Homo sapiens: one gene and its partners. The protein of the gene in region 4 interacts with the protein of the main gene of each other region in a pairwise test. Each region holds a gene or a part of one and is shown on either strand. Other genes may lie near its edges. The genes, in order: IL37, SIL1, PPP1R16A and UBQLN1.

Region 1 (7,795 bases), on a different chromosome or scaffold from region 4:
GGAGGAGGTCTGTGTCTCCAGTCTCTTGGCTATGGTCAGAAGAGGCACCTGGAAGGTTCCCAGGCACAAACTCTTCCTTGCCCTGTGCCTCTTAGCAGGTGAGCATCACCTGCCCCTCCCCGGGCTCATCTTTCCCAGAGTTATCTCCTAATGGGATTTGCTTCCACAAAGGAAAGACTTCAGCCCCATCCAGCACCCTTAGGTGTCCCCATTCTACAATTCTCCCACCCTGTAAGAGGACCCAATGGCTCCATCCCCCATCCCCACCCTCGCACCTCAGCCACCCCCATCACCTCACCCCGAGGCCTTACTTGTGTGAACAAAATTCATGGTGGGGAGGCTTGGGCCTGGTTCCAGGGGGCTTCCAGCCGGGTCTGCAGTCAGACGCAGTGAGGTTAGCATATGCAATTCGGATTTTCCAAGGATTTAGGGGTATCAAAGACCATTTAATTCCCTCTTCTGTGTATGTGCTGAGAAATACTAGAGCAGCATGATAGTAATGACATTAAATCATAGCTTCCCTCTTCAGAAACATAGAATAGAGATGAACTGGATCACGGGTTTGGCCTCTGGCATGTCACAGGCCTCTCCCGTCACACCTCAGTAGACAATCATTTGGGTCAAAAGCCTCCTCCTATTGTCCCCCATGGGCAACACCCAAATGTGTTCCTCATGGAATACTCAGATGCCCTGTGCCTGGGTCATTTGTTCAGCCCAGCCTTAGAGAGCTGCTTCTCATCGGAGGCTTCTCTTCCACTTGGGAATGTTGGGAGGGAAGAGGTGCATTTTGAAGCATATGCAACCATCCAGTTGGCAAACAGGATGCTAAAGCCCCAAATCTGTAGGTGAGGACGATCCTTTTATCTACTACCTGATGTGCCTGGACACTGAAGCAAAGCTTCCTTTTCCCTTCCAGAATTTCTCTTGTCTAGTTATTTGTCCAGGGAAATTTGAAAGCTCACTTACTGTGCAAGTCAGCAGGAAACAACTGGGTCTGTGCACAGCACCTAGCAAAGTTCTGCTCTAGGAATTACACTTTGGCCCTGAGGTAGATTTCTACAAGAACCTTACCTTCTAAGCAGCACTGGGGTTCATCTTTTTCCCAGTCCTCAGAGCCCATTTTCACTCCTGAGTTCTCCCCCACAAAGGACATTTTCAACGTTGAGTTTATTACTCAACAGAAAATGGAATGAAGTCCAAGACCTAAGGAGATAGAAAGGGGACCAGTTATGGCATCTTCTCACCCCAGGACACCTTGCTGCATGTCTCTAGTGCTGAACAGACCACTGGCCTTGCTCTGTAGTTTGAAATGCTCGCTGCAACCAGAAAGGCACCAAGGGGCCAGACCATGCTCTCCTGTCTATCACGCCTTCAAAGCAGAATTTCCCAAACCTTGAGTCACAGTGCTAACACACGGGGTGCAATAGCATTTTTGTGGATCTTGGCATTTTACAAAAATAAAATAAAAAAGTTAAAAGTGCATTGCTCTAGTCTTGGGGCTGGCACACTATGGCCTTTGGCCAAATCCGGTCCCTGACTGTTTTTTTAAATAAAGTTTTATTGAAACACAGCCATGCTCTTGTTTACATATTGTCTCTGGCTGCTTCGAGGCTACAATAGCATGGTTAACTAGTTGAGAGATCATCTGGCAAGCAAAGCCTAAAATACTTACCATCTGACACCTTCTATAGAAGTTTGCTGAGTCTCTGCAGTAGCCTAATCTTTGCCTAACAAAAAGCAGTTGCTCTGCAACCTCTTTTCATGAAAACCTAAGCCACCAAATGTCCCAGGAGGCTCAATCCCTAATATCTTAGGGTAGGATTGACTCACGTGACTTGCTTCATTGGGAGGGGTTGGAGGAGATATATTTATATATATAAATTCTGCACACCCTATCTCAGTTGACCGAGAGCTTTCAACATCAGCCCAGGCCAACATAGGACAGAAGTGGAGCAAAAATTGGTATTCCCATCTTACCGATAAAAAATCAAAAGTTAAGTGATTTGTTCAGAATCATATCACTTCTAAGATTGCAGAGATAGGCAGTTTGTGTACAAATCCAATCCTTTGAGAAAGGTTTAGGAGTGAGACAAAGGGAACTAAATTGTTCATGCAAAAAATAAAAATGACAAGGAAGGGCTTCAGGACTCAACAATAAGGACGGTGAGCAGGAGCAGGTGGGTAGAGCTGATGGGTCTTTAGGAACAGGGATATCTGCTATTTGATTTTAACCTGTTTGTGGTTTGGCAGTATCCCTGAATACATGAAGCACAACTGCCTTTGTCATGTTGGGGTAAATCAAAGGACACAAAAAATTGGAGGCGCTTGACAGAGAATTTGGCAGCCAGAACATCAGAGCAAGAGATGTCTGGCAGAAACGTAGGTATCCAAAGACATATAAAGATACTGTGGTGCTGCTGAAGGACAGAAGGATGCTCACAGGCTGGAGGACCTGGGGCCATCCCTCGGGGGTACTCATGAAATCTGCTGCCTGTATTAAGATAAATGCAGGGAGCTTTCACAGAATTCCCTAAAGAAGCAGTGCATCTGGCCATCTGAAGTCCATCTCTTTGCACTCAAAATCTGTTCCCAAGGACCAATATTTTCTAGACTCTAAAGTCAGTCTTCTGAGCCTTCAGAGAAGGGACTAGCATTTCCAGGGTTGGTGGATTTCCTAAGCTAGTGTCTGCCTGGCCCTCCAGCAATGCCCTACTTGTTAGTGGAAGCCCTCCTGGGAGAGAGCAGGCTGCTACTGGGGCTGAGAGCAAGGTGTTCTGGGCAGGTCTCAGAGATCATATTTAGAAATTCAGATGTGCTTCCAGTGGGGATAAAAAGCAAGGGTCTAGATGGCCAGATGCTACTCTACTTCCCCATCCATCCTGTTGGCCTTGAAAGCCAGTGCAGGAGGACCACCTACCTGGGCCAGGGATCCTCGTGGTCTGTGGCTCTGTCTTGGACTCCTGGAGCTCTGTTTGCCTTCAGTTCTCAGGATCCTTTACTTGAAGGAGCTAGGTCTGGTACTCATTTGTAATCAACAGTTTGTGAGTGGTTATGCAAATACAACACAAGTATTCCTTTGGCCAATAATAAATAGCATCCTCAGTTATCAGTGATCACTCATTTCCTGCTATTTTCCATGCCAACGGTATAAACAAATTCCTGTGGGGGTAGTGCCACTCTGCTAAGGACTGTGCCACACCTATTCAACACATTTCAAGGTACTTGTGATAGATCAGGTGGCTTCCAGTCCAGTCCAATAATACAGGTATAGAAAACAGAGGAGAGTGAAGGAAAGAGGGGACACAGGGTTTAGATCAGCCAATGAGCCTGGGAGGTTCAAGGAAGCCCTTGTTCTCATGATGGTTCTTTGCCCCAATTCCAGAGTTCATGCAAGTGGAGTCCCCATGTCCCAGAGAAAAATGTCCTCTTTTCATGTTCCCTTCCAGGTACACTCCGGGATGCACTATACCTCTTCTATGTCCCCTCTTCTTCAAAGGTGACATGCAAAAGGACCTTCCTTGATCAAGCCCTCCAAGGACTAGCTTCCTTCTACAGCCCATTAGCTATTTATCTGCACTTCCTTGCATTTTTCCATCACATTTGCCCTTGTCAGTTACTGTGTATGGCTATGTTTTACAACACCACACACAGCTGCTCAGTATGAGGGGAAATCCACATAACCAATTAAGGTAATAGCTTCTGGACCACCACCAGCAGCATGTCAATAACACAGGAACAACAGGCCAGCACAATAGTCAACCACTGTGCTCTCACTGTGCCAGGTCTGGGCTCAGCCCATTTATTTATTTTTCTCCAACCAAATCCTTTGATGACCCTGGGGGTAAATACCATCCTTCCTGTTTTACAGACAAAAGGTGGTGCAGTTTAGAGAGGATGGACAATTTACCCAAGATCACATCCTTAATTACTGGAAGAACTATAACCCAGGCCTTTCTGAGCATGCTGCAGCCTCATCTCTTAAACTTCACCGAAGACTGTGGTCTCATCCTCTAGCCTTTCTTCACATACGCATTTATATAACATACAAATATAGGAGTGTGTCTGACAAATTATTTTGTAAGATACATTTCCTACTTAATGTATCTTGCCTTTTCTACTCAATATGATATCTCAAACATCGTTCCATTTCATCAATACTTTTCTACAATAGTGTATCTAATTACTGCAAGGTATTCCATTATTTGTCTAAAGACCTGGAAAAATGTTATTCCCTTGATGGCTAGAATACAAATCCCTGATTTCTGTTAAATTCCATAAGGAGACACATATCTTTAGAGAACTTCTTGATAAACCTCTTGGGATGGGATGAGATTGTGAAGGAAAAGAGGAAGTAAAAATTTTAAAAAGTCAAAACAAACACTAACTTATCTTCTAAGAAGGTGGTTGGGGTAACTGTAGGCACTTCTGTGGTGCTCACTTCTGGAATGAATGAGGATGTGAGTGTGGGGGCAGCAGGCCATTGCTCTCAGGACAGGGAAGATGGAGATGCAGGGAGGGTGCCATGTTGAGGCAGTTGCAATAGAGACTTGTAGAGATTCAACCAAGTGGTTCCGGAAAGGAAGGGAAATGAGAGAGAAGAGTTTGTCTTTAATAGGGGGTGCTACCTAGTGTAGTATGGAGTATTCATAAACTCTTGCCTTTATTGCCCCATGTAAAACCTCAATAAGTTCGATTATCTGTACCAATACTGATATACAAGGGACACTGTTTATAGGAGGTTGAAGCTCGAGAGAATAAGGGGCAGCTAACTTGTATGTCACATATGGACAGATCATAGTCTAACTAATCCTCAATTTTGAACATCTGAGTTATTTTCACTTTTACATTATTATATGTATGAGATATATATATATATACACACACATATGCATACATAATTCTGTGCTTAATATGCTTGTCCAAATCTTTGCATATATCATTGATTACTCCACTAGGATAAATTCCTACATGTGTAAATGCTAGACCAAAGGACATACATATTTTATTTTATATACTTTTAAAAATTTTCTATCTTACAACGATTTTTAAGGACTCCAATTTATTGAAAAACAAATTCACTTTTCTAACTACTCACTGCAGAGGCAATCACCATGCAGACTTTTGACAGGTAGCTGAGTTCCTGTGTGTATGTTTCTGTGGTATGTGTATATTTGGGGAGATGCATGTATACTTTGTGTATGTATGTTTTGTACAACATATGTATTTTCATGCCATTATGGAGTTGAAAGGTGAGGCCAGGTGGACTTCCTGGGTCCAGTGGGGACTTGGGGAACTTTTCTGTCTTACAAGAGGATTGTAAAACACACCAATCAGGAACTTTTCTGTCTTACAAGGGGATTGTAAAACGCACCAATCAGCACTCTGTAAAATGCACCAATCAGCAGGATTCTAAAAGTAGCCAATCACAGGGAGGATTGAAAAAAGGGCACTCTGATAGGATGGAAACAGAACATGGGAGGGGCCAAAAGGAAGTAAAAGCTGGCCACCCCAACCAGCAACCCTGCTGGGGTCCCCTTCTGGGTTGTGGAAGCTTTGTCCTTTTGCTCTTCACAGTAAACGTTGCTACTGCTCACTCTTTGGATCCATGCCATCTTTAAGAGCTGTAACACTCACTGCGAAGGTCCACGGCTTCATTCTTGAAGTCAGCGAGACCACAAACCCACCAGTAGGATCTATCTCTGGACACAGGTTTGTGGGCATGTTTGGTGTGTGTTGTGTGTATATATTTTGTGTGTGTGTTGTGTGTTGTTATGTGTTGGGGGTATGTATGTTTTTATGATTTTGTGTGTGTGTTATGTGTGTGTTGGGCGGGGAGAAAAGCCTTTGGTTCCTTTGTGTCCACAGCACGGGACAGGGCTCAGCATAACTAGCGATTTGCAGTTGATTTATTTACATGAAACGTATCCCCTTTTGCACTTTAGGCCAAAAAAAAAAAAAAGTGCAGTAGAGCGATGCTCCTCCATTTGAACCAGCCTCCTGCATTCAAGGTGGGAGATGTGCTGAGAGACATCCAGGAGTTGTTTTATGAGGATTACCAGATGACTCTGGAATTCCAGTCATTCCCAAGGATACTCTTTTGATATTTCTGAACAGATTAGACCCCACTGAGAGATTCCACCTTTAAAGAAATTCAATGAGATCACATGGACACAGGAAGGGGAACATCACATTCTGGGGACTGTTGTGGGGTGGGGGGAGGGGGGAGGGATAGCACTGGGAGATATACCTAATGCTAGATGACGAGTTAGTGGGTGCAGCGCACCAGCATGGCGCATGTATGCGTATGTAACTAACCTGCACAATGTGCACATGTACCCTAAAACTTAAAGCATAATTTAAAAAATTAAAAAAAAATTAAAAATAAATAAATAAATAAAAATAAAAATAAAATAAAAAAATTTAAAAAATTAAAAAAATATAAAAAATAAAGAAATGCAAGTGGCCTCTTCGCAGCAAAGCCAGGTAAGCTGACACGAGGAGACAGACAGCACGTGCTGCCAGGCATTCCCTTCATCAGACACCAGCTCCTGCCCAGCGTGGGAAGCCAGGGTCCTGGTCACTGTGCGGGGCCGAGGCTGCTGCTCCTTGAGTGACACAGCAAAGGGCATGTGTCCCCAGGTCACTGGCCATCCTCTCTGATACCAGACTTTTTGGCATTTGGGACCCTCACCTGAAGCTTCTGGCAGATCTGGGGGGTGGGCCTTGTTCCCCCATCCACAAGTTATTTCAAGAATTTACATCCATTTTTTGTTGTTATTTGGGCCGTAGGATGTGAGTTTTAACAGAGACAAGGGAAAGCTCTCAAGAGAATGATCCAGATTCCTGGGAATCCTATAAGCCCTCCTCCACCTGACTAGGACTGCATTTTTAAAGCCTTCATTTGTGCAAAGGCCTTTGTGCTGACATAGTAATACCCCATTCCAGGAACTTGGGCCATGGCCTCCTGTCTCGGCAGCATTTCTGGGTTAAGGGGCAGCCAGTGATTGTCCTCAATGCTTGAGGCACTACAGGGTGGGAGGTGGAGGATCACAGGTGAGTCAAACAGGAAGCCTGCTCCTGGGGAGCTTACAGTGATGTAGGGTGGTGAGACAAGGACACCAATACCTGTGTGCAGGTACCACTAACAAGTACAAAGCACTGCAGCAGCAGGGAGGAAACCTCCCTGTGCAGAGGGGGCTGAGGAGGGCTGCAGGGAGATGACAGGAAAGCCGGTGTTAAAGTAGGAGTACTTCCCACTCTCTGGGCATGAGGAGACCAGGAGGACATTCCACAGTGAGAAACCCAGGCAGAGGCCGTGTGCTTATGGCATTGGGGGGGAGAATGACACCTTAGAATTATTCTCTACATTGGAATTGTCTATTACAGATACCCATATTGTAGCTTCACATAGTGTGGTGGTTAACTGTGTTATCATATTGTCTTATTTGCTATTTTCCAGCCACCCGCCCATCCCTGATAGTCACTGGCCCAGCACAGGGCCTTCCACCTTCCATCAAACAAATGCCTGAGCTTCTCACCGAGGGGTAAATCACCTGCCAGTAGGGAAGGATCCCTGTTATAACCCCTCTCCAGGCAGGCTTGGTCCAAATGAACTCCTAGGAGCCCACGCCCTGGGAAATCCCCTGGCCACTGTTGTGGCTGGTCCTGCCAGCTAGAAGAGGTTCCTCCAGGGCCAGATGCAAGCTCTGTGGCTGTTCCAAGGAGGCTCTGCAGCACTAGCTCAGCCTTGTACCATGCTGGGCTCCTGGGGATTTCTGCCTCCATTTCTTCCTTC
Region 2 (7,024 bases), on a different chromosome or scaffold from region 4:
AAAGACAATGGCATTTTCTTGAATGTACTAATTCCTATTGTTTACCAATTCAGATTGGCCTTCCCTCCAAATAGTGAGTTTTTTTTACCTTATTTGTTTCATACAGAGAAGTGAGGCATGGTCTATAGTCATAGTGCTTGGATTTTTTTAAAAACTCAACTTGAGATCAAAATAATGGGATTGGCTCCAGGGGCTTTTTCCTCACTCCCTTGCTACATGGAACCAGTTGTACATCTCAAAGAGAGAGACAGTCAACTTGAGCACAAAATCTGGGTCAGTGTATGTGACTGTGCCTCCGTGACTTTGCACAAGGACCAGAAATGAGCATACAAATCAGAGGAAAGCAGTGACAAAAGTCAACATTCCCTTGATGAGCTAATTGCTTCATGTCTGGCTGAAGAGCAGAAAGCAAGAGATAAGGAGAACATACTATCTGAGGGACCAGGCAGGCTCTGGACTAGCCAGCCCTACCCCAATAAAATCCCCTCATCAGACACTGCCCCCGAAACAAGGCCTGCTGGCTTGAGCACCTGACAAGAGAGAACCTGAGAAAGATAAGCACTAAGCTGAGTAAGGAAGGAGATGGCAGAGAAGCAGCAAAGTTCCTTGCTACTCACAACTTTTAGTTATTCAGCATGAAATACCTATAACTATTGGTATAAATAATATGTAATACAAACCAACTAAGACAACAATGAGGTGATGGTTAAGATAAAACTTGCTTGGTCAGCATAACCTATCCTGAAACTACGACGTGGCTCAGAAACTGGAAACTATTGTTGTCAATAATGATGACAACACAGAGCATTTACATCAGGGGTCCCAAACCCCCGATACTGGTCTGTAGCCTATCAGAAACCCATCCAAGGAGGTGAGCAGCAAGTGAGTGAGCAAAGCTTCATCTGTATTTACAGCTGCTCCCCAACGCTTGCATTAACGCCTGAGCACCGCCTCCTGTCAGATCAGTGGCAGCATTAGATTCTCATAGGAGCACAAACTCTATTGTGAACTGTGCATGCAAGGGATCTAGGTTGAACACTCCTTATGAGAATCTAATGCCTGATGATCTGTCACTGTCTCCCATCACCCCCAGATGGGACCGTCTAGTTGCAGGAAAACAAGCTCAGGGCTCCCACTAAGTCTACATTATGGTGAGTTGTATATTTCATTACATACTATAATGTAATAATAATAGAAATAGGTTGGGCATGATGCCCATAATCCCAGCATTTTGGGAGGTCCAGGCGGGTGGATCACCTGAGGTCAGGAGTTCAAGACCAGCCTGGTCAACATGGTGAAACCTCATCTCTACTAAAAATACAAAAATTAGCGGGTGTGGTGGTACACATCTGTAATCTCAGCTACTCAGGAAGCTGAGGCAGGAGAATTGCTTGAACCTGGGAAGCAGAGGTTGCAGTGAGCCAAGACTGTGCCACTGAACTCCAGCCTGGGTGATGGAGTGAGACTCTGTCTCAAAAATAATAATAACAGAAATAAAGTACACAATAAATATAATGTGCTTGAATCATCCCCAAACCATCCCCCACATCCCCCAGTCCATGGAAAAATAGTCTTCCATGAAACTAGTCCCTAGTGCCAAAAAGGTTGGGGACTGCTGTTTTACATTGTGCCAGAGGAAGCACCATATCTATTCTCTGAATTCTTAAGATAGCTATAAAAATACATATTACTATTCCCATTCAACAGATCATAAAACTAAGGCTTAGAGAAAATAAGTAACTTACAATCTGACAACTAGTAAGTAGATATCAGAACGTAAATACAAGTGAGTCTGACTCCAAAGTGTGTTTAAACCACTCTGAAATACACTCATTCCTTCTCTCTTTCTCTTAGAGATGTCTTGAAGGTTTGCTTGGATCACCAGATAAGGTCCACTGTTACATCTGGCCTCATTCTTTACAGAAACACACAAGTCTGGCCTGAGCACTATTTGTTTCTAACACGGAGGAAGGCTTCAAATTCATTTCCTCTGAGGTAAGAGCAAGAGAAACACATTTCGACATGAGTAGGAGGAAAAACAGCACGACAGCAAAAATCTTCAACCATGAGGGTATAAGATCATGTACAAGGCAGTAAGTGGAGACAGGGCCTCCTCCTTCCCAGGAGACTTTTAACTGCAAAAGCATCCTGCATCTTTACAATGCTTTAAACAATTCTAACAACTTCTATGGCCACCCTTTGTAAGACCCCTAGCCTGTGTCCCAGCTCTAACACTAGAGTCCCACTATTATGTGGGTGGCCTAAAAAAGATCCTACCATTACGTGGCCCACTTCACTTCTCTGGGGCTCAGTTTTTGTCGTCAGAAAAATAAAAACCTATCAAATGCAAAATGGAGGCATTGGGCAGTAACAGAACTAGAAGTGTATCTCCTGACTCTTCACTCATCCACAGTACCACAAACAGCCAGCCCTGATGTTTGCAAGGAAATAAAGATCTCTATAATATCTTCCAGCCCAAAACACAATCATTTTAGACTTTAGCAGCTGGGTCCAAGGATGGAGACTTAACTTCAAGAATACAGTCAAACCCAACTCCCCATGAGTATGAGATGGGGTGTGGGGAAAAACAAGAAGCAACCTTAGGCCAGAGACAGTGGCTCACACCTGTAATCCCAGCACTTTGGGAGACCGGGGTGAGCAGATTACCTGATGTCAGGAGTTCAAGACCAGCCTGGCCAACATGGTAAAACCCCATCTCTACTGCAAATACAAAAATTAGCCGGCCATGGTGGCAAGCACCTGTAATCCCAGCTGCTTAGGAGGCTGAGGCACAAGAATCACTTGAACCTGGGAGGCAGAGGTTGCAGTGAGCCAAGATCACACTCACACCTGGGTGACAGTGAGACTCTGTCTCAAAAAAAAAAAAAAAAAAAAAAAAGCATCCTTAAATACTTACTTACAACTTACTTATGAGCTGGCCCCTTAAGCTTCCAATACACACTATCCACAGCACTCAAAGCATGGCCAATCAATGTTGTCTGTATCGATTGTCCTACTTTATGTTATTCCACTGGGCTGAAGCCTGCTAGTTTTCTAGTTTGGTCAGATGGCTGCTTTCCCCTTGGGAGCCTCACAAAAATGAGACTATCCCCAGAGGTAAAGAAATGTCCATTTAAAAGCCCACTGGTATAGCTGGGCATGGTGGCTCACACTTGTAATCCCAGTGCTCTAGAAGGCCAAGGTAGGGCATCACTTGAGGCCAGGAATTTAAGATCAGCCTGGGCAATGTTGCAAGCAAGACCCTGTCTCTTTAAAAAAAAAAAAAAAAATTAAATTAGCCAGGCATGGTGGTGCACACCCATGGTCCTAGCTACTTGGGAGGCTGAGGTGGGAGGATCACTTGAGCCCAGGAGTTGGAGGTTGCAATGAGCTATGATCACACCACTATACTCCAGCGTGGGCAACAGAGTGAGACCCTCTTAAAAAGGGCCAGGCACAGTGGCTCACGCCTGTAATCCCAGCACTTTGGAAGGCCGAGGCCGGCAGATCTCGAGGCCAGGAGTTTGAGACCAGCCTGGCCAATATGGTGAAATCCCATCTCTACTAAAAATACAAAAATTAGCCAGGCGTGGTGGCAGGCGCCTGTAGTCCCAGCTACTCGGAAGGCTGAGGCAGAAGAATCACTTGAACCTGGGAGGCAGAGGTTGCAGTGAGCCGAGATTGTGCCACTGCACTCCAGCCTGGGCAACAGAGCAAGATGCTGTCTCAAAAAAAAAAAAAAAAAAAAAAATCCACTGGCGAGTGAGGCATGGTGGTACATGCATGTAATCCCAGCTACTCAGGAGGTTGAGGTGGAAGGATTGCTTGATCCCAGGAGTTCAAGACTAGCCTGGGCAACATAGCAAGACCCCATCTCAAAAAAAAAAAAAAAAGTCCATTGGCATTAGCTTTCCTCACCAGAACTTTAGGATGTATCTCAGATTATTCTTCCAGTTTCTAGATCTCTTTCCCATCACAAGACTGAAGAAGCAAACTACTTGCAGAGATGGAAGTAGCCAGATGTGGAGATGAGTTCACTGACCACTTTGATGTTTTTCTGCCAGTGATGATAAGTGGTAACCAAAAGGGATGATCAAGAACTTCCTCAGTCACAACATAGCCTATGAGCAGACCTCAGAAACATACCCTTCCCCATTTCTCTGTAGATGTGAAATGTGAAATGTGACAAGGGCCAAACATCAGACTCTTCCCAAAGGTTCCGATGTCCAGTCTGGGGACACCTGGGCCAACACAGCAGCCCCAGCTGTGAAGATGGAAGGTCCAAGAGGCACCAGAGAAGCAGATGATAAATGGACCACCTCAAAATCCAAAGACTGGAAGAAAATTAAAACAATAAAGAATAAACTTGGCTGGGTGTGGTGGTTCACACTTAATAATCCCAGTACTTTGGGAGACCGAGGCAGGAGAAATGCTTGAGCCCAGAAGTTCAAGACCAGCCTGAGCAACACAGTGAGACTGTCTCTACCAAAAAAAAAAAAAATTAGCCAGATGTGGTGGCACATGCCTGTAGTACCAGCTACTCAGGAGGCTGAGGCAGGAGAATCACTTGAACCCAGGAGGCAGAGGTTGCAGTGAGCCAAGATCACGCCATTGCACTCCAGCCTGGGCAACAAGAGCGAAACTCAGTCTCAAAAAAAAAAAAAAAAAAAAAAAAAAAACAGGAAAGGAAACGAAAAAGCTTGTGGTACTAGCTGTTTCTTCTGGATAAAAAACTGGCCTTGATGACTACATTAAAGAAAGAATATCAGATAAGACCATGCATTCTCAGTGAGTGCAGTAACAGCCCAGAAGGGGTGAAAATTGATTCTTGGGGGAAAAAAAGTTAGATATTACAATGGTTTGTGGCCATCCAAAGGGCCACAATACAAAAACAGATACACAGTACATCTGTGGTATTAAAATTCCATTGGGGGTAGCTGGGCACGATGGCTCATGCCTGTAATCCCAGCACTTTGGGAGACTGAGGTGGGCAGATCACTTAAGGCCAGGAGTTCAAGACCAGCCTGGCCAACATGGCAAAACACAAAAACTACTACTAAATAACACAAAAATTAGTTGGGCATGGTGGTGGGCGCCTATAATCCCAGTTACTCAGGAGGCTGAAGCACAAGAATCACTTGAACCCAGGAGGCAGAGGCCACAGTGAGCAGAGATCACACCACTGCACTCCAGCCTGGGCGACAGAGTGAGACTCCCTCTCAAAAAAACATTCCACTGGGGAGTAGACAATTAAGGGAAAAAAAGTCTCAAAATATGATAATGAACAAAAGGTTGAAAAATAATTAGATGAACCCAAAGGGTTGAGTCTTAGATGAACCCTAAGGGCACAGTGTTCATTAACTTGTATAATGGTCATGGGTAGGGTAACTAACTTGTCCTGGTTTGCCCCGGACTTTCCTGCTTTTGGCACTAAAAGTCCCACATACGGATATCCCTCTGTCCTGGGAAAACTGGCATGGTGGTCCACTCTTCTCAAGAGAGAGATCAATGAAGGCATTCCCATTTCACAAATGAGGTGACACCAAGAAACACAGTGGTTGTCACGGATTCACAGCACTTTAGCAGCATTCCTGAGGCAAGGCTGGCTCTTTCCATTTGTCTAGTCCTATGCTCACAACTCTCTGCCCCTGATTTCCACTTTGGCAGAGAATGTTACTCATGAATTGATTATGCCACTTCCTTCTCAATACCAAAGCCAAGGGCAGTATTAGGAGGATGAAGGCAAACATGGCCAGCCAGCATAATCACAGCCATGTCTTACAGCTGCCTGGTGGAACCTGAAGGAACTACAAGTCTGGGCTGAATATAGTTTTGTTGCTACTGGATTCTGGGTACAAATTTGCAAAAGTAAGAATGCCAGGTGTAAACTCCTCACAAGCTAGGAAAATTCCTAGCTTGAGGTTCTCCACATGTGTCTGAGCAGCCCGAATCTTTTACAAGGTTTTTGTCCCAAAGATGAACTCAGTTATTGCTTATGCTAGGAATCAGGGGTTACCCAAGGCCTCACTCTGAATGGCAACAGGCTATTCTCCTACTCCCCTACTCAGCAGTGAAATCCTTGGTGAAAGTAAAGGAAGAAAAGAAAAGGGCATGCTATTCCGTCTTTAGTCTACGTATAATTAAAATACAAGACTCTCTGCTGTAGAAGACTAAGGTTTGCAGTTTAAGGCCGACTCAGAAAAGGATAAAGTATTCATCCTTGCTCAGAAAGAGAGAAGATTAGCTCCACAGGATGGGTCTCCAAATTGACACCAAATCCAGGAGTTAGAGATGGCTGTGCTACAGAGCGTGATCCAAGCACCATCTGGAGCCCCCAGAAAAAAATCCCTAGGAATAGCGACTAAGGGACTAGCATTGTAAGAGAGTTCAGATTAGCTCTCCTGAAAAGAGGCTTACTACAAGAGACTGGCAGACAGCCTCTGCAGCAAAACTTCACTTAGGAAAGGACAGAAAATGAATGAAGAAAGACAGGGGGAGGCTGAGCAGGTCAGAGTATGAATCCACAAGTATGTGAAAAAGAGAATCCACCTATTTCGAAAAAGGTACAACTTCCTTTCAGAGCCTTTTTTTTTTTTTTTGAGACAGAATCTCTCGCTCTATCACCCAGGCTGGAGTGCAATGGCACAATGATCTCGGCTCATTGCAACCTCCGCCTCCCGAGTTCAAGTGATTCTCCTGCCTCAGCCTCCCGAGTAGCTGGGATTACAGGCATGCGCCACCACGCCCGGCTAATTTTGCATTTTTAGTAGAGACGGGGTTTCTCCATGTTGGTCAGGCTGGTCTTGAACTCCCGACCTCAGGTGATCCACCCACCTCAGCCTCCCAAAGTGCTGGGATTACAGGTGTGAGCCACCGCACCCGGCCAGAGACTCTCATGTTCTTTTGAATATTCTCATTAACGGCAAATCTTCATTCTTTGAGGGTGAAAACATTTATTGCATTCCTATGTCCCAAGAGCTTTCATGTGTAATACGTCATTTAACCACCCTTCAAAGTAAATATT
Region 3 (7,024 bases), on a different chromosome or scaffold from region 4:
CGCCTCCTGGGTTCACACCATTCTCCTGCCTCAGCCTCCCAAGTAGCTGGGACTACAGGCGCCCACCACCACGCCCGGCTAATTTTTTGTATTTTTTTAGTAGAGTCGGGGTTTCACCATGTTAGCCAGGATGGTCTCGATCTCCTGACCTCGTGATCCGCCCGCCTCGGCCTCCCAAAGTGCTGGGATTACAGGCGTGACCACCGCGCCCGGCCTGTTTGATGGGTTTTGTGAACAACGTCATAATCCAAATATAAAACATTTCCGTTGCCCCCAAAAGTTCTCTCGTGCTCCTCTGTGGTAAGCCCTTCCTCACACCCAGCCCAGGCAATAGTGATCGCTTTCTATTACTGTAGGTTTGGCGTCCCTTTTTAAGAATTTCACATTGGCTGGGCGTGGGGGCTCACGCCTGTAATCCCAGCACTTTGGGAGGCTGAGGCGGGTGGATCATCTGAGGTTGGGAGTTCGAGACCAGCCTGACCACCATGGAGAAACCCTGTCTCTACTAAAAATACAAAAAGTTAGCCAGGCATGGTGGCGCATGCCTGTAATTCCAGCTACTCGGGAGGCTGAGGTAGGAGAATCCCTTGAACGTGGGAGGCGGAGGTTGCGGTGAGCCGAGATCGCACCATTGCACTCTAGCCTGGGCAAAAAGAGCGAAACTCCATCTCAAAAAATAAAATAATTTCACATCAATGGAATCATATGGAATGAATACTTTTGTGTCTGATTTATTTTGCCAGATGACAATGTTTTAGAGATTCAAGTGGTTTTGTGTATCCGTAGTTGATTCCCTTTTTCTTTTTTCTTTTTTGTTTTTTTGAGACAGAGTCTTGCTCTGTTGCCCAGGCGGGAGTGCAGTGGCACGATCTTGGCTCACCGCATCCTCCGCCTGCCAGGTTCAAGCAATTCTCCTGCCTCAGCCTTCTGAGTAGCTGGGACTACAGGCGCCTGCCACCATGCCCTGCTAATTTTTTGTATTTTTAGTAGAGACAGGGTTTCACCATGCTGGCCAGGCTGGTCTCGAACTCCTGACCTCGTATCCGCCCGCCTTGGCCTCCCAAAGTGCTGGGATTACCAGTGTGAGCCACTGTGCCCGGCTGCCGCCGCCGCCGCCGCCGCCTTTTTTTTTGAGATGGAGTCTTGCCAAGTGCAGTGGTGTCATCTCGGCTCATTGCAGCCTTGGCCTCCCGGGTTCAAGCGATTCTTCTGCCTCAGCCTCCCAAGTAGCTGGGACTGTAGGCATGTACCACCACACCCAGCTAATTTTTGTATTTTTAGTAGAGACGGGGTTTCTCCATGTTGGCCAGACTACCTGAAGTGATCTGCCTGCCTCAGCCTCCCAAAGTGCTGGGATTATAGGCATGAGCCACCGCTCCTGGCCAGTTTATAGTTTTCTTATTTTTTATTTTATTTTTATTTACTTATTTTTGAGATGGAGTCTTGCTCTGTTGCTCAGGCTGGAGTGCAGTGGCACAATCTTGGCTCACTGCAACCTCCACCTCCTGGGTTTAAGCAGTTCTCCCTGCCTCAACCTCCCGGGTTTAAGCAGTTCTCCCTGCCTCAACCTCCCGGGTTTAAGCATTTCTCCCTGCCTCAACCTCCCGGGTTTAAGCAGTTCTCCCTGCCTCAACCTCCCGAGTAGCTGGGACTACAGGCACATGCCAGCATGCCCAGCTAACTTTTTTTTTTTTTTTTTTTGGGACAGTCTCACTCTATCGCCAGGCTAGAGTGCAGTGATCTAGGCTCACTGCAACCTCTGCCTCCTGGGTTCAAGCGATTCTCCTGCCTCAGCCTCCCGAGTAGCTGGGACTACAGGCGCCCGCCACCACGTCCAGCTGATTTTTGTAATTTTAGTAGAGACGGGTTTCACCATGTTGGCCAGGATGGTCTTGAGCTCCTGACCTCATGGTCCACCCGCCTCAGCCTCCCAAAGTGCTGGGATTACAGGCGTGAGCCACCGCGCCCGGCTTATTTTTTTGTATTTTTAGTAGAGACGGGTTTTTGCCATTTTGGCCAGGCTGGTCTTGAACTCCTGACCTCAGGTGATCCGCCCCCCTCAACTCCCAAAGTGCTGGAATTACAGGTGTGAGCCACCGCGCCCGGCCCAACTTTCATTTCTTTTGCGTATGTACCCAGAAGTAGGATATGCCTTCTTTTTTATGTTGTGTGGCTGACAGAGTTACGTTCTGTTCTGTAACGATGTTCACATGTCAGTCTTTCTATCTACAGAACCAGGCAGTGTGTGTAAAGTAGGTTTCCTCATCTGTGGGTCCAGTGTCCCAATTCCTGCCTCCTACAAATGATGTTCTTGGCTGGCTTCAAGTTCAAAGGCTTTCCTCCTGTTTCATGCATCATCAGTCTCCTTCATCACGTGAATTTTTTGAACTTTGTCATCCTATGTGTTGTGTCGTTCTGTTTTCTTTATTTCTTTTTATTTATTCATTTATTTTTGAGACGAAGTCTTGCTCTGTCGCCCAGGCTGGAGTGCAGTGGCACCATCTTGGCTCACTGCAACCTCTGCCTCCTGGATTCAAGTGATTCTCGTGCCTCAGCTTCCTGAGTAGCTGAGACTACAGGTGCATGCCGCCACGACCGGCTTTTGTATTTTTAGTAGAAATGGGGTTTTACCCTGTTGGTCAGGCTGGTCTCGAACTCTTGACCTCAGGTGATCCACCCGCCTTGGCCTCCCAAAGTGCTGGGATTACAGGCATGAGCCACTGCGCCCGGTCTCTTTTTTTTTTTGAGACAGAGTCTTGCTCTGTTGCCCAGGCTGGAGAGCAGTGGTGTGATTAGAGATCACTGCAGCCTCAAACTCCTGGGTTCAAGCAATCCTCCTGCTTTGGCCTCCCATATGTTGGGATTATAGGCGTGAGCCACCATGCCCAGCCCTTCCCTGTTTTCTTTTTCCTTGGCCACCTTCCCCTGCTCATCTCTCTGCTCTGACAGCTCCTACCATCTTTCCTTCCAACTTCTAGGAATGTGCTGGCTGACTGTGAGCTCTCTTTCTTGGAAATGCCTTTCCAGCTCCTGTCCCAGGCTCACAGGCATCTCAGTGGCTTACTGTGTCACCTGCGCCCTAGGTTGGTTGTCTAGACCCCACACCTCTGTTGTCCTAAGGCTGGGGACCCTCACGGTCCCAGTGCTGCCTCCTTCCACACTCCCAGGCCCTGTGCCACTGGCACGTCTGTCCGCAGGTCCCCTTCCCACAGCCCCACCTAGACCGAAAGGTCTGTGTCTCTGTGAGGAAGTGAATACCGAGTCAGAGCAAATCCTGGGTTACAGCGCCGACCCCTCTGAAGCTCACTTTTGTGATTTTGGTTTCCTCACCATTGTACTTGACAGACCTTAGTTGCCACATCTACTCCGTGGGGGTTATGGCCCATTAGAGCTATGAGGCTGAATGAGGCAGTTCATAGGGAAGGCTGCTTGTGGCCCTGGCTTCTAGAAAGGTGTGATTTGCAGGGGCTGCTAGGAGCCCTCCCTGCCCTCTCTTCCCTTTCTTTTGGTCTAGGGCTGGCTTTTATCTTCAGTTCTCGTTGAGTCTCTTTTCAAATGCAGATGCCTCAGGCTGCCAGCTTCTTTCATTTAGGCATCTGGGCCTTTGACACCTTGCTGTGAGTTAGTTTATTCGATTTATTTTGAAGCCAGGTGGCAAGGGGAAAGGAAATTGAAGAGGGAGATGCAACGCTTCCCCTGGTTTCTGGGGAGAGGCTTCCCCAATTCTCCAGCCCCTGACAGACATTGCGTGAGAGCTCATGGTTAGCGGGCCAGTCCCTGGTGTGGTCCACGCGTATCTCCTGTCCCGGGCTGGAAGCATGATGTGTGCAAATGTCCAAATCACGGGGTCTTCCCTCCCTCACAGGGCTTTAGCCAGGCAGCTGTTACTGAGGTAAATAATGATTTGTGTTTGTAGATAAAAAATAGTGGAATAGTTTCAATTTCATATGGTTCTGCTGCTGGGTGTTATGCAGGGGGAATCTGAGGAGCACTGAGATCACTGGGAAAGAGGCCGGGTGCGTGGCTCACGCCTGTCATCCCAGCACTTCGGGAGGCCGAGGCAGAATGAAGAATCTCATGCCAGGGGCCAGAAAGGAGGCTGAGACCAGAGTGTGAGTAGGAGTCAGCCCCCTCAGAGGTGGGACCAGAGAGGAGGCTCCTTAGGAAGCCATAGTGAGGAGGACATGTGGGACAGGCTCAAGGATTGACAAAAGAACCAGTAAAAAAGAATAGAATCTCAAAAAAAAAAAAAAAAAAAAAAAAAAAAGGCCAGGCGCAGTGGCTCATGCCTGTAATTCTAGCACTTTGGGAGGCCAAGGTGGGTGGATCACTTGAGGTCAGGAGTTCAAGAATAGCCTGGCCGACATGGTGAAACCGTGTCTCTACTGAAAATACAAAAAATTAGCCAGGCGTGGTGGCACACACCTGTAATCCCAGCTACCCGGGAGGCTGAGGCAGGAGAATGGCACGAACCCAGGAGGTAGAGCTTGCAGTGAGCTGAGATTGCGCCACTGCACTGCAGCCCGGGCAACAGAGCAACACTCCATCTCGGGAAAAAAAAAAACAATAGATAAAGAAAAATAAATAAAAAAAGAAAAGAGATGGCTCAGAGATCCCTTGTAGACTTCCCGGGTACCCATGTGGTAACGTTGCACCTGTCAATGGAGTACAGCAGTTCAAGGGGATGTTGACACCAATGTGCTCCATTGACCTTATTCAGATTTCACAGCTTTCCATGTGTCTACCTGTGTGTGTGTGGTTTAGTTCTGCGCATCTGTCACTGTAGGGTTTGTGTGAGCCCATGGCCAAGATGCAGCACAGCCACCATAGGGACCTCTTGAGCTGCCCTCTTGCAGCCACAGCCACCTCCCTTTCCCAGCCTGAACCCCTGAGAGCCACTGGTATGTTCTCCATCTGTATGGTTTCACCATTACGAGAATGCTCCATAAATGGAGTGCTGCAGGGTGTGGGCGTTGAGGTCGGCGTGATGTCCTGAGGTCCATCCAGTTGTGTGCACTACTAGTGTGTTCCTTTGACTGGAGGAAACGTCTATGGTATGGATGGACGGACCATCATGTTTCACCTGTTACAAGACATTTGGTTTTTTCCCCCAGTTTTTTGCTATTATGAATAAAGTTGCCATGAACATTTATGTAGTTTTTTGTGTGACTTAATTTTTTTTATTTTTTGAGACAGAGCCTCACACTGTTGCCAGGTTGGAGTGCAGTGGTGTGATCTCGCGCCACCACACCTGGCTAATTTTTGTATTTGTAGTACAGATGGGGTTTTGCCATGTTAGCCAGGCTGGTCTTGAACTCCTGACCTCATGTGATCCCGCCTGCCCCAGCCTCCGAAAGTGCTGGGATTACAGGCGTGAGCCACCACGCCTGACTTAAATTTTCATTTCTCTGGGATAAAGGCCCGTGAGCGCAGCTGCTGGGTGGTTTGGGAGTTGCATGTTGAGCTGTTTTGGTTTAAGAAACTTCCACACTGCTCTCCAGAGTGGTGGCTGTTTTATTTCACAGGTTTTCATCAGCTCCTGTGAGATTCCTTTGTCCTCACATCCTTGCCGTTTGGATTCGTGGGCAGCGGTATCTCGCTGTGGCTCTAATTTGCATTTTACGAATGGCGGGTGATGTTGAGCATCTTGTCACGGACGCATTTGCCATCTGTGTATCCTCTTCAGTGAGGTGTGTCTTTGCATCCTCTGCCCATTTTCTAATTGGATCGTTTCATTTTTACTGCTGATTTTTTGAGACTCGTGTGTTCTTGACAGCAGTCCTTTGTTCTGTGTGTGGTCTGTGGATATTTACTCACTCAGTAGCTGTCTTTTCATCCTCCTCTCAGGGTTTTTAGCAAGGCAAAAGTTTTTAATCTTGTCAAGGTCCAGTTTTTCCGTTTTCCGTTTTATAGACTGTGCTTTTGCTTTTGGTGTCACCACTCTGTAGAAGTGCTATTATTTTACCTTTACGTTAGATTTGCATTTCACCTGGGGTGGGGGTCAAGATTCTTTTCTTTTCTTCTGTTTTTTTGTTTTTTGATTATTTTCTGTCACCCAGTCTGGAGTGCAGTGGTGTGATCTCGGCTCACTGCAACCTCCACCTCCCAGATTCAAGCGATTCTCCTACCTCAGCCTTCAGAGTAGCTGGGACTACAGGTGTGTGGCACCACAACCGGCTAATTTTTTGTATTTCTAGTAGAGACGGGGTTTCACCCTGTTGGTCTCGAACTCCTGATCTCAAGCAATCCTTCCCCCTCAGCCTCCCGAAGTGCTGGGATTACAGGCGTAAGTCACTGCGCCTGGCCCCAGCACCATTTATTGAAGGCTTTTCCACTCCCAGCAGTGTCATAAATTGCATGTCTACACATGTGTAGGTTTATTTCTGTTTTGTTTTGGGGACAAAACAAAACAGTCAGAGACAGAGTCTTTCTCTGTCCCCCAGGCTGGAGTGCAGTGTTGATTTCGGCTCACTGCAACCTCTGCCTCCCAGGCTCAAGTGATCTTCCCACCTCAGCCTCCCAAGTAGCTGGAACTGCAGGGGTGCACCACCATGCCTGGCTAATTTTTTAAATTTTGTAGAGATGAGAGTCTCCCTGTTTTGCCTAGGCTGGCCTTGAATCCCTGGGCTCAAGTGATCCTCCTGCCTCGGCCTCCCAAATTGCTGGGATTGCAGGTGTGAGCTGCCTCATCTGGCAATTTTCTGGACTCAACCGTATTCCATTGGTTTATTTCTCTATGCCTAAGCCAGTAACTTAGGTCTTACTTACCAAACTGTATATAATAAGTCTTGACATCTAATAGTGTAAGTACTTCAAATTTGTTCTCTTTCAGGCTTATCCCTAGTGTTCTTGGCCTTTTGTGTTTCCATATAAGTGGAGCATTAGCTTGTGAGTCTCACACTGTTGGGGTTTTGATTGGGACTACGTCAAATCTTGGATGAATTTGGGGAGAAATGACATCTTTTCAGTTCTGGGTTTTGCAACATATAACGAGATGTCTCCTCCTATATCTTCCCATAAAGAT
Region 4 (7,024 bases):
TGGCTCACTACAACCTCCGCCTCCTGGGTTCAAGTAGTCTTCCTGCCTCAGCCTCCTGAGTACCTGTGATTACAGGCATGTGCCACCATGCCCGGCTAATTTTTGTATTTTAGTAGAGATAGGGTTTTACCATGTTGGCCAGACTGGTCTTGAACTCCTGACCTCAGTTGATCGCCTGCCTCGGCCTCGCAAAGTGCTGGGATTACAGGCGTGAGCCACCGCACCTGGCCAAGATAAAAAAGTTTTTTATATAGTCAAGCTTTGTGGGTGTAACTGGTCATTGGCTTCCCTCTTATGAGATAACCTACCTCCATCTCTTACATAAGCAATATGATTGAAACTAATGAAATATTTGTGTACATTATACTCAAAGAGGAGGGGCAATTGCAGCATATTTTGTATTTTGTAGGGTTTTATTTTATTTTGTATTTTTTGTTCCTAATGCTTAGTTTTCTCAGGCTTTTTACTAAATGATAATTTGATTTGGTCTGAGAGTTTACCCTTTATTTCTAGATGTCAGGATTTCAGTGGTTCTTTTTTTTTTTTTTTTTTTTTTGAGACGGAGTCTCGCTCTGTTGCCCAGGCTGGACGGAGTGCAGTGGCGCGATCTCGCTCACTGCAAGCTCCGCCTCCTGGGTTCACGCCATTCTCCTGCCTCAGCCTCCCAAGTAGCTGGGACTATAGGCACTCGCCATCACGCCCGGCTAATTTTTTGTATGTTTAGTAGAGATGGGGTTTCACTGTGTTAGCCAGGATGTTCTCTATCTCTTGACCTCGTGATCAGCCAGCTTCGGCCTCCCAAAGTGCTGGGATTACAGGCGTGAGCCACTGTGCCTGGCCTTTGGTGGTTCTTTTAAAAATAATCAGCTCTACTGCTTACTCTGTGATTAATTATTTTCCCTAGGCCTCAGGATCATTCAGCTCAGCAAACAAATACAGCTGGAAGCAATGTTACTACATCATCAACTCCTAATAGTAACTCTACATCTGGTTCTGCTACTAGCAACCCTTTTGGTTTAGGTAAGTGTCTTTAGTCATTCCAGTAGGGATGGGAAAAAATACTCCTTTCCCTTCCTGGGTAGTTTCAGATAAAATGAGAAAATAAAACATTATGTCACTTTAACAACAAAAATTAAAAAAAAAAAACATACATTCCTATAATTGTAGATATTAAGGAAGTAGTTGGGGATATGGATATTCTTACATATCAGTTGGCGCCTTTCTTTTTAATGATGAAAGAGATGTAGTTTGTGTATACCTGATCTGACTACCACATAATTTAGTATGAGTAAGATTAGCTGGTTATTAATCGTAAGCCAGCGTCCCTGAATAATAATTTTTTCATTTGTAAAAGGAAGGGATCAGACTGCATTAGTTATTTTGTAACTGTCCTGAACACATGGAAGGGGGTCTGGGAAGCCAGCCTCGCCTAAAACTGCTTTTGTTTTTCTTATATTAGTTTTTGTTTGTTTGTTTGTTTGTTTTTTTAAGAGAGGCAGGATCTTGCTCAGTCACGGAGGCTAGAGTGCAGTGATGCCATCCATAGCTCACTGCAGCCTCAAACTCCTGGCTTACGGTGTCCTGCTGGTGTCCCAAAATGCTGGGTTACAGATGAGAGCCACTGTGCCTGGCCTGTATTAGATTTATATATTGAGGTTCTGTGGAATATATATATATATATTTTTTGAGACAGAGTCTTGCTCTGTCGCCCAGGCTGGAGTGCAGTGGCGCGATCTAGGCTCACCGCAACCTCTGCCTCCTGGGTTCAAGCGATTCTTCTGCCTCAGCCTCCCGAGTAGCTGGGATTATAGGAGTGTGCCACTACGCCCGGCTAATTTTTTTGTATTTTTAGTAGAGACTGGGTTTCACCATATTAGCCAGGATGGTCTAGATCTCCTGAATTTGTGATCTGCCAAAGTGCTGTTATCCATTTTCTTTTGATAATAGATAGCCAAACTCAGTGGCTTATTACAACAAAGCTTCATTTCTTGCTGCATTTTTCTGCATGCTACGCTTTTTACCGGTTTGTAAGGTGCCCATCCATATAGTCCCTCAGAGACTCAAGCTAATGAAAGTCATTTTTCATTCTGCTGTATTATAGCTCTACCATTTGGAACACGGCAGAAGAGACAGCTACAGGGTTTTAAGTTGAACCTGCTATACTTTGGCCAGAAGTGGCATATATCATTTCTTGTAGTCCTTTGGCATTTCACATAGGCCTGTCCAAGTGCAAAAGAAATAATAAGGCTGCAAAATGAAATGTTTGGTGAGCACTGCTATCTGCTACTGTAGTTAGTCATACTGAAGTTTTTGTGGTTTCAAGAATGCATTAATACATTTATTTTTGTGCTTTTTGTATATGGTGTTCATTGTGCCTAGTATTCAGTCCCCCTCCTAACCTTCTTCACGTTTCCTTGCCAAAGTATTTATGCTCCAGACTCATTAAGTGTTATCTCTTCTTCTGAAAGTAGCCATTCCACTTGGGTTATATTACCATAATATCCTGTGAATATTCTTTACTGAAGTACTTAGCATCTGTATAGACATTTATTTTCTTGTCTGTCTTTCCTACTAGATTGAGTTCTGAGGATGTCTTTCTTGTTGCCTTATTCTCAATACATATGTAACACAGTCTCTGGCATATATAAAAAGTGCTCAGTAAGTGAGAACTGAATGCATTTAGTTGGTTATGTAATTTTACGAAGTAAACACTTTGTGGTAAGCACTTGGTCATCCTGTTGCTCTGTTAGGTTTCTCCTTGATTGAAGTCCTCCAAAGAGAAATCTATTTCCAGGTATTCCCTGGCTCTCTGTCTCCTTGACTGGCAGTATCAGCCCTCTTGTACCCAGTGTTTATAGGTGAATTCTGCTTCCTGTTAATAAAACTTAAACTAGTCTTTTGGAAAGATTATTAGAAGCATAGTCTGGTGTGTGTATTTATTATTTCTTCCTTTAGCTGGCATAATCTGGACTGTTTTTTCTGACACCAGCCAATTGTCCAATACCAGCTCTGTGTCCAAGATTCAGCTTCATTTCTGATACTACCTACCTACAGTTAGTGTCTGATCTCACAAGTTAGCAGACTCAGTCCTGCAAGACTGCCCCTACTTCAGATACTGGTCACAAGTTCTAGGCCATCTGTACTTCTGACTGACCAGCTCTAAGTTGGGGGTTCCCCTGACCTCCTCCTCAGGTTCAATAATTGCTAGAATGGCACCTAGAACTCAAGGAAACACTTATGTTTACCTGTTTATTATAAAGGATACAACTCAGAAACAGACAAATGCTTGGAAGATAATTATTAGGGCACAAGGTATGGGTATGTGGGGGATGGAAGTTGGGCTCAAAGGTTCCATCCAGGTTTCCTCAGCGCACAACCCTCCTAACACTCAGATGTGCTTTTCATTTTGAGTTTTCTTAATTTTATTGTTGAAGAATTTGCATAGAGCTCTATCTCCACCTCCCTACCCTTACTTTCTTGGTGGGTGGGGCTGAAAGTTTTAGCCCTTTAATCACTTTGTCTTTCTGGTGACCAGCTCCTTTCTGAGGCTTTCCAGGGGCCTAAGTCACTTCATTAGCATAATGATCAAAAGGGCTTGTAATGAATAATAAAAGATACTCCTGTCACTCAGAAAATTCCAAAGTTTTAGTAACTCAGGATCAAGGAGAAAGACCAAATATATTTATTATTATACTACATACATGAAAATATATTTTGTTGATTTTATTACTTTAATTACCAAAGTGTAAATTTTTGGCTAATTTCAATGATAGGAATTAAATATTAGTAATAGGTATTCGATTTGTTTTTAAATGATTTCTTGTAATAGACTATTGGGTCAGCTAATACTTTTTTGCATCTTCATATTTTATGTCATGTTAATGATAAATTTTCTGACTTTGATTTGTATGTTTTTGCCCTTTATCCTCTTAGGTGGCCTTGGGGGACTTGCAGGTCTGAGTAGCTTGGGTTTGAATACTACCAACTTCTCTGAACTACAGAGTCAGATGCAGCGACAACTTTTGTCTAACCCTGAAATGATGGTCCAGATCATGGAAAATCCCTTTGTTCAGAGCATGCTCTCAAATCCTGACCTGATGAGACAGTTAATTATGGCCAATCCACAAATGCAGCAGTTGATACAGAGAAATCCAGAAATTAGTCATATGTTGAATAATCCAGATATAATGAGACAAGTATGTGGAAAGTTCTTTCAGTTCGTTTAGCTAAAAAATGATATATTTGTTATTTAATTTTCTGTGGTTAATGAGATTGTCCTGTATGTATGGTTAAGCTAAAGAGAGAAATCCTTATCTTGGTTTAAGAAAACTCAACAAAGCGCTAATTTGGCTGTTTGAACTCTGAATTTTCTGTTAAATTGAAGGATCTTTGTAAATAGTTTATTTTGAAGGCTTAAGAATCAAAAAGTCCAATGCTGGAGATGGGAAATTCACTCATAACAAAGTGCTTCCTTCTTTATGTTATTTGAATGCTAAGTTGCTTTTTTGAGGTGAAATACACCAGGGATTATTTAAAATAACCTCCTGCCTTATATGTTGAATACAAAATTGCAACAACTTTAAAGCTTTAATTGGTTTTTATTTGTGATTCTAGAATCAGACAACACCTCATTTTATAAAATAGAGTGTTCTCATGAGCTGAGCAGAAGAGGTTGGCTTTATAGGCATAAAAGGGCTGAAGAAAGCAAAAACGAACAAAAAGCAGATGGGTCATTTCGAAGTTACTTTCCTAATAGGGTTAAAATGGAGGGAACTCTTTCTTGTTACAGTGACTCACGTTGACTGCAGCTTACTATGGTTTTGGGGGGGAAACTGGCCCCTTTCATAGTTCACTTTGATTACATGGCACTTGGCACAAGTGGCTCTATTTTGGTTTGTTGTGGTCTGCTGGGGCATAGTGCAGGAGGCTGGTCCAAAACAGTGGCCTCCTGGCCGGGCGCGGTGGCTCACGCTTGTAATCCCAGCACTTTGGGAAGCTGAGGTGGGCGGATCACGAGGTCAGGAGATCAAGACCATCCTGGCTAACACGGTGAAACCCCGTCTCTACTAAAAAATACAAAAAAAAATTAGCGGGGCGTGGTGGCGGGCGCCTGTAGTCCCAGCTACTCGGGAGGCTGAGGCAGGAGAATGGGTGTGAACCCGGGAGGCGGAGCTTGCAGTGAACCAAGATCATGCCACTGCACTCCAGCCTGGGCGACAAAGCAAGACTCCGTCTCAAAAAAATTAAAAAAACAAAACAAAACAGTGGCCTCCCATAAACTTTGTTTAATGGCAGTTAATAAAGTAATTAATGTAATTCATGTGTATTTCAATGCCTTTTTTTTTTCTTTTTTTGGAAATATTTTTCGTAGACGTTGGAACTTGCCAGGAATCCAGCAATGATGCAGGAGATGATGAGGAACCAGGACCGAGCTTTGAGCAACCTAGAAAGCATCCCAGGGGGATATAATGCTTTAAGGCGCATGTACACAGATATTCAGGAACCAATGCTGAGTGCTGCACAAGAGCAGGTGATCCACTGGCTCCAAGGTTCAGGCCAAGGAGTAGCTTCTGTTTTAACACAAATATGTGTATGATTGAGGGTAGCTTTTATATGAGGAATGTGGTTTTCAATTTTTAAAAAGTTCAGTGGCCGGGTGCAGTGGCTCACGCCTGTAATCCCAGCACTTTGGGAGGCCGAGGCGGGTGGATCCCGAGGTCAGGAGATCAAGACCATCCTGGCTAATACGGTGAAATCCCGTCTCTACTAAAAATACAAAAAATTAGCTGGGCGTGGTGGTGGGCGCCTGTAGTCCCAGCTACTCGGGAGGCTGAGGCAGGAGAATGGTGTGAACACAGGAGGCGGAGCTTGCAGTGAGCCGAGATCGCGCCACTGCACTCCAGCCTGGGTCACAGAGCGAGACTCCGTCTCAAAAAAAAAAAAAAAAGTTTCATATCTTATTTAAAACAAAAGCTTATTCTTTGTGATTTTTTATGTCTTTTATTACAGTTTGGTGGTAATCCATTTGCTTCCTTGGTGAGCAATACATCCTCTGGTGAAGGTAGTCAACCTTCCCGTACAGAAAATAGAGATCCACTACCCAATCCATGGGCTCCACAGACTTCCCAGAGTTCATCAGCTTCCAGCGGCACTGCCAGCACTGTGGGTGGCACTACTGGTAGTACTGCCAGTGGCACTTCTGGGCAGAGTACTACTGCGCCAAATTTGGTGCCTGGAGTAGGAGGTATGCTTTTAACAACTCAGGCTTTTTTCTTTGTTGTCCTCATTTACATAATTAAAACATTGTTTATACTCTTATTCTTTGTGCTTTTGTGTGTATGTATAGTGAGTATCTTTTATAAACTATATTTTTCATGTTGCTTTTGTTTTGTTTTGTTTTGTTTTTTTGAGATAGAGCTTCGCTCTTGTTGCACAGGCTGGAGTACAATGGCACGATCTCAGCTCACCGCAACCTCTTCCTCCTGGGTTCAAGTGATTCTTCTGCCTCAGCCTCCCGAGTAGCTGGGATTACAGGCACCTGCCACCATGCCCGGCTAATTTTGTATTTTTAGTAGAGACAGGGTTTCTCCATCTTGGTCAGGCTGGTCTTGAACTCCTGACCTCAGGTGATCCGCCTGCCTTGGCCTCCCAAATTGCTGGGATTATAGGTGTGAGCCGCTGCACCTGGTCACATTTTGTTTTTTAAAGGAAGCTTTAAATGTAGAGAGAACACTTATTTACTTGTGTAGTTGTTACTAGTTACCTGTGTAGTTGTTACTAGAGCACATGTTTGCTGTCTTTAGCCTGGTTTTGTATTTTAGATCAGTAGATTGTCAAGCACCCGTCTTGAGGTCAGGGCTATACTGGCTGCATCAGAGCACCTGCCAGGTTTATTAAAAATCAGATTCCCAGATCTTACCCTCAGACTTTGTGGAGCCAAATCTTTCATAGTGGGGTTAAGATCTGTGTTTGTGTGAAGCAGATTCTCATGTGTGAACAGGTTAGAAATTTACTTTTGTCCACT

Evidence for each region.
Region 1: the proteins of UBQLN1 (region 4) and IL37 interact in binary tests that used the Homo sapiens proteins (3 or more experiments, as listed by UniProt).
Region 2: the proteins of UBQLN1 (region 4) and SIL1 interact in binary tests that used the Homo sapiens proteins (3 or more experiments, as listed by UniProt).
Region 3: the proteins of UBQLN1 (region 4) and PPP1R16A interact in binary tests that used the Homo sapiens proteins (3 or more experiments, as listed by UniProt).

Annotation. Positions count from the first base shown.
Region 1 is NC_000002.12:112,906,371-112,914,165, reverse strand, and holds the start of IL37 (interleukin-37), read right to left. Parts: upstream 3,002-7,795; 5' UTR 2,918-3,001; intron 1,204-2,917; 5' UTR 1,154-1,203; coding exon 1,072-1,153; intron 375-1,071; coding exon 312-374; intron 1-311. UniProt on the Homo sapiens protein: Immune regulatory cytokine that acts as a suppressor of innate inflammatory and immune responses involved in curbing excessive inflammation.
Region 2 is NC_000005.10:139,188,347-139,195,370, forward strand, and holds part of SIL1 (nucleotide exchange factor SIL1 precursor), read right to left. Parts: intron 1-7,024.
Region 3 is NC_000008.11:144,480,974-144,487,997, forward strand, and holds part of PPP1R16A (protein phosphatase 1 regulatory subunit 16A), read left to right. Parts: intron 1-7,024. UniProt on the Homo sapiens protein: Inhibits protein phosphatase 1 activity toward phosphorylase, myosin light chain and myosin substrates.
Region 4 is NC_000009.12:83,676,947-83,683,970, reverse strand, and holds part of UBQLN1 (ubiquilin-1), read left to right. Parts: intron 1-904; coding exon 905-1,020; intron 1,021-3,933; coding exon 3,934-4,196; intron 4,197-5,371; coding exon 5,372-5,530; intron 5,531-6,009; coding exon 6,010-6,244; intron 6,245-7,024. UniProt on the Homo sapiens protein: Plays an important role in the regulation of different protein degradation mechanisms and pathways including ubiquitin-proteasome system (UPS), autophagy and endoplasmic reticulum-associated protein degradation (ERAD) pathway.